Linked DNA regions of Homo sapiens: region 2 is linked to region 1. The links come from fine-mapping of genetic effects on gene expression. Tissue or cell type: whole blood. Region 1 holds a variant in brackets; the other region holds the start of a gene. All regions are shown on one strand. Distances are between the middles of the regions. Region 1 overlaps STARD9 (StAR related lipid transfer domain containing 9). Region 2 holds the start of STARD9 (StAR related lipid transfer domain containing 9).

Region 1 (5,375 bases):
CAATAATAGCTGAGAGTTTACCTTTTCCCACACTCTCACCAACATGTTATCAAATGTTTAGATTTTGTGTTGAAAATTGTATCTCATTTTTCTCATATGCTTGAATATTTGTATTTTGTTTTTCATGAGCCATCTGTTCATATCCTTTGCTCTTTTCTCTTTTTCTCTTACCAATTTGGAGAGTTCTTTATATTTTAGTAAGAATAGCCGTTTGACTGATACGAACTAGAAATATTTTTTTCCCAGTGCTTCCTTCTCTTTTGACTTTGCTTATTTTGTTTGAGGCCATGCAAGCAGATATATTTGTCCGTTTTCCTTTTATGGTATCTAGGTTATAAATAATAACTAGAAACACATTCTTCAATCCACAATTATAAAGAATTTCTTCCATGGTTTCTTCTAGAACTTCTGTGGTTTTATTTTTCATATTTAAATCTTTGTTCCTTTTGGAGTCATTTTCATATGAGGTATGGATCCGATTGTGTTCTTTCCAGATGGCTATCTAGTTGTCCCTGTAATGCTTGTTAGACAGTTTATCTTTGCCTCACCAGTTTAAGGGGTCCCCTTTCCTTATACCAAGGCTTAGAATAGATTCTACCCTGCGGTAGTGTTAGTCCACCACTACCCTCATTGCTCTTCTCTTTCTGAGTTTACCAGAGTATTCTTTCTTGTTTATTAAAAAAAATTGTCTTATTTTATTATAATTGACACATAATGTAAATATTTATGAGGTACACTGTGATGTTTCAATCCACATATGCATTGCATAATGATCAAATCAGGCAATTAGCACATCCATCACTTTAAACATTTATCATTTCTTTGTGGTGATAACATAAAACCCTTTCTAGCCAACTTGAAATATACATTATATTGTTATTAGCTATAGTCACCCTATTGTGTAATAGAACACCAGAACTTATTCTTCCTTTCTAACTTTGTACCTGTTGACCATCCACTCCCCATTCCCTCTTCCTGATCCCCTCCCCAGCCTCTGGTAACCACTATTCTGCTTTCTTCTTCTATGAGATCAACTTTTTTCTTTTCTTTTTTTTTTTTTTTTTTTTGAGATGGAGTCTTGCTCTGTCGCCAGGCTGGAGTGCAGTGGCTCAATCTCGGCTCACTGCAAGCTCCGCCTCCCGGGTTCACGCCATTCTCCTGCCTCAGCCTCCTGAGTAGCTGGGACTACAGGTGCCCGCCACCACGCCCAGCTAATTTTTTGTGTTTTTAGTAGAGATGGGGTTTCACCATGTTAGCCAGGATGGTCTCGATTTCCTGACCTCGTGATCTGCCCGCCTTGGCCTCCCAAAATGCTGGGATTACAGACGTGAGCCACCGTGCCTGGCTAACTTTTTTATTTTCATTATTTATTTATTTTTGAGGCAGAATCTCACTCTGTTGCCCAAGCTGGAGTGCAATGGTGCAAACTTGGCTCACTGCAACCTCCGTCTCCCGGGTTCAAGCGATTCTCATGCCTCAGCTTCCCAAGTAGCTAGAATTACAAGCGCCCACCACCACACCCAACTAATTTTTGTATTTTTAGGAGAGACGGGTTTTCACCATGTTAGCTAGGCTGGTCTCAAACTCCCGACCTCAGGTGATCCACCTGCCTCGGCCTCTCAAAGCGTTGGGGTTACAGGCGTGTGAGATCAACTTTTTTAGATTCCGCATATGAGTAAGATCACGTGGTGGTTGGCTGTCTATGCCTGGTGTCTTCCACTTAGTATAATGTCCCTGGGTTCACCCATGTTGCCACAAATGACAGAATTTTATTCTGTTTTATGGCTGAATAGTATTCCATTGTGTATATATGCCACATTTTCTTTGCCCATTCATCTGTAAACATTTAGGTTGATTTCATCTCTTGGTTATTGTGAGTAGTGCTGCAATAAATATGGGAGTGTAGATATCTCTTTGACATACTGATTTCATTTTCACTGGCTATATACCTAGTGGTGGAATTGCTGGATCATATGGTAGTTCTGCTTTAGTTTTTTGAGAAACCTTCATACTGTTTGCCATAATGGCGGTATTAATTTACATTTCTACCAGCAGTGTATAAGAGTTCCCCTTTGTCGACATCCTTACCAGCATTTGTTGTTTTTTGTCTTTTTATTATAGTCATTTAGATGGAGCGAAGTGATATTTCATTGTAGTTTTGATTTGGATTTCCCTAAAAACTAGTGATGTTGAGCATTTTTTTCATATACCTGTTGGCCATTTGAATGTCTTTTTTTGAGAAATGTGAAATCAGGTTTTTGCCCATTTTAAAGTTGAATTCTTTGGGATTTTTTGCTATTATTTGAATTCCTTATGTATTCTGGATATTAACCTTTGTCATATGCATAGTTTGCAAATCCATTCTCCCATTCTGTGGGGTGTCTCTTCACTCTTTTTTCCTTAGCTGTGCAGAATCTTTTTAGTTCGATGTAACCTCATTTGTCTATTTTTGCTTTTGTTACTTGTGCTCTTGAGGTCTTGTCCAAAAATTCCTTTCCCAGTCCAATGTCATAAAGCATTTCTCCTATGTTGTCTTCTTGTAGTTTCATATTTTCTGGTGTAAGATTTAAGTTTTTGATCCTTTTTGTATATGGTAAGAGATAGGGGTCTAGTTTCTTGCTTCTGTATGTGGATATCCAGTTTTCTCAGCATCATTTATCACAGAGATTGTGCTTTCTCCCTTGTGTGTTCTTAGTGTGTTTGTCAAAAATCAGTTGGCTAT[G/A]AATGTGTGGATTTCTGTGTTCTTTGTTCTGTTCCTTTAGTCTGTGTGTCAGTTTTTATGCCAGTACCATGCTGTTTTGATTACTATAGCTTGGTAGTATTTTTTGAAGTCAGGTACTGTGATGCCTCCAGCTTTGTTTTGCTCAGAATTTCTTTGGCTGTTTGGGGTCTTTTGTGGGTCCATATGAATTTTAGGATTATTTTTTCTATGAAGAATGTTATTCGTATTTTGATAGAGCTTGCATTGAATCTGTAGATTGCTTTGGGTGATATGGACATTTTAACAATATTCTTCCAATCCATGAACATGGGATATATTTCCACTGATTCATGTCATCTTTAATTTCTTTCATCCGTGTTTTACGGTTTTCGTTGTAGAGATCTTTCACCTCTTTGGTTAAATTTATTCCTAGGGACTTTATTTTTTTGTAGCTATTGTAAATGGGATTGTGTTCTTGCTTTCCTTTTCAGATAGTTTGCTTTTGGTCTATAGAAACACTACTGATTTTTGTATGTTGATTGATAAATAAAAGTAAAATTCTAAGCCTCCAACTGACTGAACAGACCTCCTCTCAGCCAGGGAGACCCCAGAGAAACCTTAAAAGTTGAGTGCATGACCAACAGAAGATGTTGAAATAAATGCCCTGGCCAGGCACGGTGGCTCACGCCTGTAATCCCAGCACTTTGGGAGGCTGAGGCAGGCTGATCACAAAGTCAGGAGTTCGAGACCAGCCTGGCCAACATAGTGAAACCCCATCTCTACTAAAAATACAAAAAATTAGCCAGGCGTGGCAGCATGCACCTGTAATCCTAGCTTCCTGGGAGGCTGAGGCAGGAGAATTGCTTGAACCCGGGAGGGTGGAGGTTGCAGTGACCCGAGATCATCATTGCACTCCAGTGCAGGTGACAGTGTGAGACTCTGACTCAAAAAAAAAAAAAAAAAAAAAAAAGCTGAATGCATGACCATGACCTGATGGGAGGTTGGACACACCTGCTTATATCCCCTTCCTCGCTAACAGATATTAGGCATTCTTCCCTAAGGGCTAAACAGAAACCAGCCCTTTCAGCAGACTCCACACTGATAATGTCAGTTACTAGTTTATCTTCCCAGTTATAGAACAAAGACGATTAAAATTTTTTGTTTGTTTGTTTTTTTAGTCAGAGTCTTGCTCTGTCGCCCAAGCTGGAGTGCAGTGGCACAATCTCAGTTCACTGCAACCTCTGCCTCCCGGGTTCAAATGATTCTCCTGCCTCAGCCTCCTGAGCAGCTGGGATTACAGGCGCGCACCACCATGCCTGGCTAATTTTTGTATTTTTAGTAGAGACGGGGTTTCGCTATGTTGGCCAGGCTGGTCTCCAACTCCTGACCTCATGATCTGCCCACCTCGGCCTCCCAAAGTATTGGGATTACAGGCATGAGCCACCGCGCCCGGCCTGTTGTTATTATTTTTAATAGTTTTGTCTTTTATTCTTCATAGCAAAGATAGGAGTTGTCTATCTATCACAGTTATAATATTAGAGTTTTCTAAATTTGTCTGTGTACTTAGTTTTACCAGTGAGTTTTATACCTTCAGATGTTTGCTTGTTACACATTAGCATCCTTTTCTTTCAGATTGAAGAAGTGCCTTTAGCAGTTGTTATATAAGACAGGTCTGGTGTTGATGAATTTCCCCAATTTTCATTTGTCTGGGAAAGTCTTTCCTCTCTTCTTCATGTCTGAAGGATAGTTTTACTGGATGAAGTATTCTTGGTTGATGTTTTTTTCCTTCAGCACTTTGACTGTCATCCCACTCCCTCCTAGCCTGTAAGGTTTTTGCCGAGAAGTCTGCTGCCAGACCTATTGGAGCTCCTTTACTTGTTATTTGCTTGTTTTCTTTTTTAAAAATTACAGTTTAATTTAAGTGTTTTGTAGAAATGGGAGTCTCACTATGTTGCCCAGGCTGGTCTTGAACTTCTGGCCTCAAGCAATCCTCCTACCATAGTCTCCTAAAGTGTTGGGATTACAAGCATAAGCCACCACACCTAGCCTATTTGCTTCTCTTCTCTTGCTGGTTTAATGACCTTTTCTTTGTCCTTGACCTTTGAGAATTTGATTATTATATGCCGTGGAGTAGTCTTATTTCATTAAATTTAATTGGGAACTTTTTACCTTTCCATACCTCAATATTTATATCTTTCTCTAGGTTTGGAAAGTTCCCTGTTATTATTGCTTTGAATAAACTTTCTACTCCCCTCCGTTCTCATTCTGCACTCCCTCTTGAATGCCAGTGACTCGTACATTTGTTTTTTTTGTTTTGTTTGTTTTTTTTTTTTTTAGATGGAGTCTTGCACTGTTCACCCAGGCTGGAGTGCAGTGGCACAATCCCTGCCCACTGCAGCCTCCGCCTCCAGGGTTCAAGCAATTCTCCTGCCTCAGCCTCCCAAGTAGCTGAGATTATAGGCGCCAGCCACCATGCCTGGCTGATTTTTTTTTTTTTTTTGTATTTTTAGTAGAGACAGGGTTTCACCATGTTGGTCACGCTGGTCTTGAACTCCTGACCTCATGATCCACCCACCTCGGCCTCCCAAAATACTAGGATTACAGGCGTGGGCCACCGCGCCTGGCCACATTTGTTCTTTTGACACTATCACACAGATTCTTTAAGCTTTCTTTT
Region 2 (5,375 bases), 130 kb before region 1:
TTTTTCACCGTATTCAGTGCAATATCATAAGCCTTGAATAACATCAGGGGACCAGTACCAAGTGCCACTAGTGATGCTGGAAGTGCTCCCAAGAAGCAGAGAAAAGTCATGACATTACAAGAAAAAGCTGAATTGCTTGATATGTACTATAGATCTGCAGCTGTGGTTGCCTACCATTTCATGATAAATGAATCCATTGTAAGGACCATTGTAAAATTTAAAAAAATTGTGCAGCCATGACCACAGCTACACCAGGAGGCACAAAAACCTTGAGCTTTTTGTGAAATACCTTTTTATAGTTTATTTTTATTTTTTAATTTGTGTAGAGATGAGGTCTCACCATTTTGCCCAGGCTGGTCTCAAACTACTAGGCTCAAGCAATACTCCTACCTTGGCCTCCCAAAGTGCTGGGATTACAGGCGTGAGCCACTGTGCCCGGCCCTGAAATGTCTTTTTATCTCATATTGAAAATGCAGCTTTTGGCAAGGTGCAGTGACTCATGCCTGTAATCCCAGCACTCTGGGAAGCCGAGGTGGGCAGATCACCTGAGGTCAGGAGTTTGAGACCAGCCTGGCCAACATGGTGAAACCCCATCTCCACTGAAAATACAAAAATTAACCAGGCATGGTGGTGCACAGCTGTAATCCCAGCTACTCGGGAGGCTGAGGCAGAAGAATCGCTTGAACCCAGGAGGCAGAGGTTGCAGTGAGCTGAGATAGTGCCACTGCACCCCAGTCTGGGCAACAGAGCAAGACTCTGTCTCAAACAACAACAACAACAACAAAACAACCAAAAACACACAACAACAACAACAAACAGAAAATGAAGCTTTTATGTGGGTACAGGATTGCTGTAAGAAAAACATACCTGGCCAGCGTGGTGGCTCACACCTGTAATCCCAACACTTTGGGAAGCAGAGGTGGTCAGATTGCCTGAAGTCAGGAGTTCAAGACCATTCTGGCCAACATGGTGAAACCCCGTCTCTACTAAAAATACAAAAAAATTAGCTGGGTGTGGTGGCACACGCCTGTAATCCCAGCTACTCGGGAGGCTGAGGCAGGGGAATTGCTTGAACCAGAGAGTTGAAGGTTGCAGTAAGCCAAGATCGCGCCACTGCACTCCAGCCTGGGCGACAGAGTGAGACAACATCTCAAAAAAAAAAAAAAAAAAAAAAAAAAAAAAAAGGAAAACATACCTATCTATATACCTATATACTCTTAATATGATTTGAGAACAAGCAAAGTCATTATATGACAACTTGAAGCAAAAGGAAGGTGAAGGATCCAAACAATTTTATGCCAGTAAGGGATGATTTGATAAATTTGGAAAGGTTTGGTTTAAAATATGTCAAGATAACAAGAGAAGCAGCTTCTGCTGACCAAGAGGGAGCAAATGAGTTCCTAGACACCATTAAGGAAATAATTGAGAAGAAAGGGTATCTGCCTGAACAGCTTTTCGGTGCATATGCAAGTTCCCTATTCTGGAAAAATAAATGCCACAAAGGACATTTATTAGTAAGGAAGAGAAGCAAGCACCAGGATTTAAGGCAGGAAGGGATACGCTAATATTTTGTGCAAATGCAGTTGGGTTTATGATCAGCACTGCCCTTATCTATATGGCTGCTAACCCTCAAGCCTTGAAGGGAAAAGATAAACACCAGCCACCTGTCTTTTGGTTGTACAAGAAGACCTGGACAATAACCCTTTATCTGAATTGGTTCCATCTATGCTTTGTCCCTGATGTCAGGAAGTACCTTGCCAGTAAGGGACTGCCTTCTATTTTTTTATTTTATTTTTTTTAGACAGGGTTTTGCTCTGTCGCCCAGGCTGAAGTACAGTGGCGCGATCCAGGCTCACTGCAGCCTCCGCCTCCAGGGTTCAAGTAATTCTCCTGCCTCAGCCTCCCGGGTAGCTGGAATTACAGGCGCACGCCAACAGGCCCGGCTAATTTTCGTATTTTGAGTACAGACGGGGTTTCACCAGGTTGGTCAGGCTGAACTCGAACCCCTGACCTCAGGTGATCTCGCTTCAGCCTCCCAAAGTGCTGGGATTACAGACGTGAGCCACTGCACCCGGCCTGCCTCGAAAATTTAACCACAGAATTGACAGTTCAAGCGAACGCAGAGAATAAAAGTATTTAGCAAATTACTTTGCAAACTTTCGGACCAAAAGTTGATTTACTTGACTTTACATAGCACGGACACCTAGTCGAGGAACAAAAACTATTTCTGGGTAAGCGGGGCCAGGAACAACAGACTTAGCACTGAGTCCTCGCGGCCCACTCGGCTCAGGATTGGCTGAAGCTGGGCCGGCACTGCTGGGCCCGGTGCGGCACGCGCATGGGTGGGGGCGTCCCAAGAGGCTGTAGGGCGGAGCGAGGCGGGGCGAGCCCGGGCGTCCTCCCGCCCACCGACTAGCCAAGGCTCGGCGGGCACCACCCAGCTCGGGATGCAGCGCGTGTTTGGGCGGGGGCGACCCGGGAGGCTTCGGATGGAACGAGGCGGAGCGAGCCCTGGCATCCTCCCGCCCACCAGGCTAAGGACTGGCCGAACGTCCACACGGGCCCGCCTGCTCTGGCTGCGGCGCGTGTTTGGGCGGGGGCGAGTCAGGAGGCTTTAAGGAGGATTGAGGGGAGGCGGGGCCGGGAGTTCTCCCGCCCACCGGGCTCAGGATTGGCCGAAGCTAGGCAGGCACCGCCCCGCTCGGGCGGCAGCTCGCGTCCGCGCGGCGGCGTCCCCAGAGGCGCGTGGGGCGGGCGGGGCTGGGTTGGGGCTGTGTCTGGGCTTAGGGCGGGGGCCTGGGATGCTGCCGCTGAGCTGACCCGCTGGACTTGGGTTGTGGCAGACGGATGGCGAACGTGCAGGTCGCCGTGCGGGTCCGGCCGCTCAGCAAGAGGTGAGTCTCCGCGGGAGAGGGCGCCTGAGGCTTCACAGGAGCTGAAAAGAGCGGGAGGTCCGCGTCTCCCCCTGCAGAGATTCTGGCGCGCAGAAATCGGTGACAAAGTGACCCGGGGGGTCGGGGTCCGGAATCCACGGAGGCCTGGCGGGACGGGACCTCAGTCGAGCTTTCGCGTTGTGTCCTGGGGATAGCGGTTCCCGGACGGCCGCGGGAGGGCTGCCCTGGGTGAGCGTCGCTGGCGTCCTGCCAGCAGGAGTTTCGAGGGACGGCGGCTCGAGGCTTGCTGCATCGGGTTGGGCCTTTGAGAAAGGCTGGGAGAGGGATGAGCATTCTCCTCTCTCTTTCTGGGGGCTTGGGAGTACCCATGAGGACTGAGGCTGAATGGTGTGTGTTTCTGGGTGCGCGTGGGCTTCTCTGCGAAGATGTGGAGAAAGCAGAAGGTGAGGGCGTGAGGGGGAAATTGAGGCCGACACAGGTCGCGGTTTCTTTCTATGCTCGACAGCTGATTTAATCCAGGACGGAACTGTTAAGTAGGGGAAGTTGTTCCAACCCCTTCTTTCTCTCAGAGCCCTCAGTGCCCGTTTTCTCGTGGCTTATTTTGATTCCGCACCTCTCATCTCAGCCCTTGAGACATCCAGTGTGCAGCCACGAACTTTTTTCTCTTTGTCACCAGATGAAGTGTTTTTTAAAGATCAATTAGAGTTTGTTGACAGGTGGAGAGAGTTTAAAGAGCCTTCTATGTAGTAAGACCGCCAAGAGCAAAGGACTTAGACTGTAAGGGACTAACTAGAGGTTAAGTTTTGGTGGGGAAAGGGTGGTTGGTGTGGAGGGAAGTGAGTGGTGGAAGGTAAATCTGGCAGAGGGTGCTTTGGGGACCAGGAGGCACATGTTGGAATTATTTGGCAAGTTTAAAAATCTCTGGGACATAAGATAGCTTGATAATTGGGCAGAAGGATCAAGAAAGGTATCGTCTCCCATAATAAAATTGGGTACTAGTGTGGATTATGTTCGTCCTCATATAGAAATGATTGGCTTTGAAAAGTCTTGTAATTGACAGACTAATGAGAAGAGCAATGAGATAGAAAGAAACAAAAAGTTAAAGAGAATAGGAAGAAGGCAAAAGAGGTACACTGAAGAAAGAGGGAAAGCAGATGCCTGACCTGCTGCGTTTTGATTGGTAAATGGCTTGTGACACCTGGCTTCTTCATAACTGGATGTGGTAGCTCAGGGCTGGGGGGGGTTTTATAAGTGCAGATGCTATGCTGGAGGTAGTCTCTGGTATATTCTGTATTTGTGAAACTGTTCTTTTAGGGTTCTCAGGATAACAGTATTGACCACTCCTAACATTCAGTAACTTCTCAGTTCCTTGGACACTAGGAATTTCTTTCTTTTTTCTTTTTTTTTTTGAGATGGAGTCTCGCTCTGTCGCCCAGGCTGGCGTTGAGTGGCGCGATCTCGGCTCACTGCAAGCTCCGCCTCCCGGGTTCACGCCATTCTCCTGCCTCAGCCTCCCCAGCAGCTGGGACTACAGGCACCCGCCACCATGCCCGGCTAATTTTTTGTATTTTTAGTAGAGATGGGGTTTCACTGTGTTAGCCAGGATGGTCTCGATCTCCTGACCTCGTGATCTGCCCGCCTGGGCCTCCCAAAGTGCTAGGATTAGAGGCGTGAGCCACTGCGCCCAGCCGGACACTAGGAATTTATAATAGCATGAATTAGATTAAGAAAATGATGCTGAAATTGGTTTACTTGCAGCCACAGTAGAGAATAACATACCAAACAAAAGTGAAGGGAAAATGAAAGCACAATTTATTTACTTTCAGCTCAAGTTAAGAGCCTTGAGCAGCAAGTGGTAGGATGTCAAGACTGTAGATACCCAGGTGTGAACAGATTGTAGCAGGCTGAAGATTCAGGAGCAGATACAGATAAACCCAGTGTGGCCCCAGCCAAGAGGTCCGGATCACTTCCCTCTTCTCACAGAATCCTGCAGAGATGGCAGCTGTTCTTCAGGGGGTGTTATACTGTCTTCATTGAGGCTTATCTGAATGTGGGGAATCTGGTGATTATGTGGTTTGTTCCAACCTTCAAATAAGTCATTGGCACACACTCAGTTGACAGTCATTGGATCTGATGTTGTGCTTGGGAAGAAATCTTACAGATGATCTGGCCCAAGCTTCTATTTTTTGTTTTTCCAGATGACAGAATGGTTTGGCTTAAGTTCTAAAAGTAGTAAGAGCCAAGATTTGATTCATTAGACCTACTGCTCTTTCTGAGATTACAGAAAAGTTGCATTTGTGTCTCAAGTGCCTATTTATTCAGTAGGACTAGAGTTGACGCTCAATTTTTTTTTTTTTTTTCTTTTGGAGATGGAGTCTCACTCTGTCACCCAGGCTGGAGTGCAATGGCGCGATCTCAGCTCACTGAAACCTCCGCCTCCTGGGTTCAAGCGATTCTCCTGCCCCAGCCTCCTGAGTAACT

Evidence for each region. PIP is the estimated chance that this variant, and not a neighbour inherited with it, causes the effect. A credible set is the group of variants that fine-mapping cannot tell apart.
Region 2: STARD9 starts here. The variant in region 1 is the best candidate, but not a certain one, in a credible set for the expression of STARD9 in whole blood (INTERVAL, PIP 0.69).

The regions. Positions count from the first base shown.
Region 1 is chr15:42,698,346-42,703,720 of GRCh38, forward strand. All of the region lies in intron 26 of STARD9 (StAR related lipid transfer domain containing 9), which reads left to right. Among named protein-coding and RNA genes, the nearest start is that of CDAN1, 36 kb to the right of the region's middle. The variant G/A (reference allele first, on the strand shown) is at 2,723.
Region 2 is chr15:42,572,869-42,578,243 of GRCh38, forward strand. STARD9 (StAR related lipid transfer domain containing 9) reads left to right here and starts at 2,738. Exons shown (of 33, transcript NM_020759.3): 1 at 2,738-2,894. The coding sequence starts at 2,848. RefSeq lists silencers at 2,246-2,875, 4,856-4,915.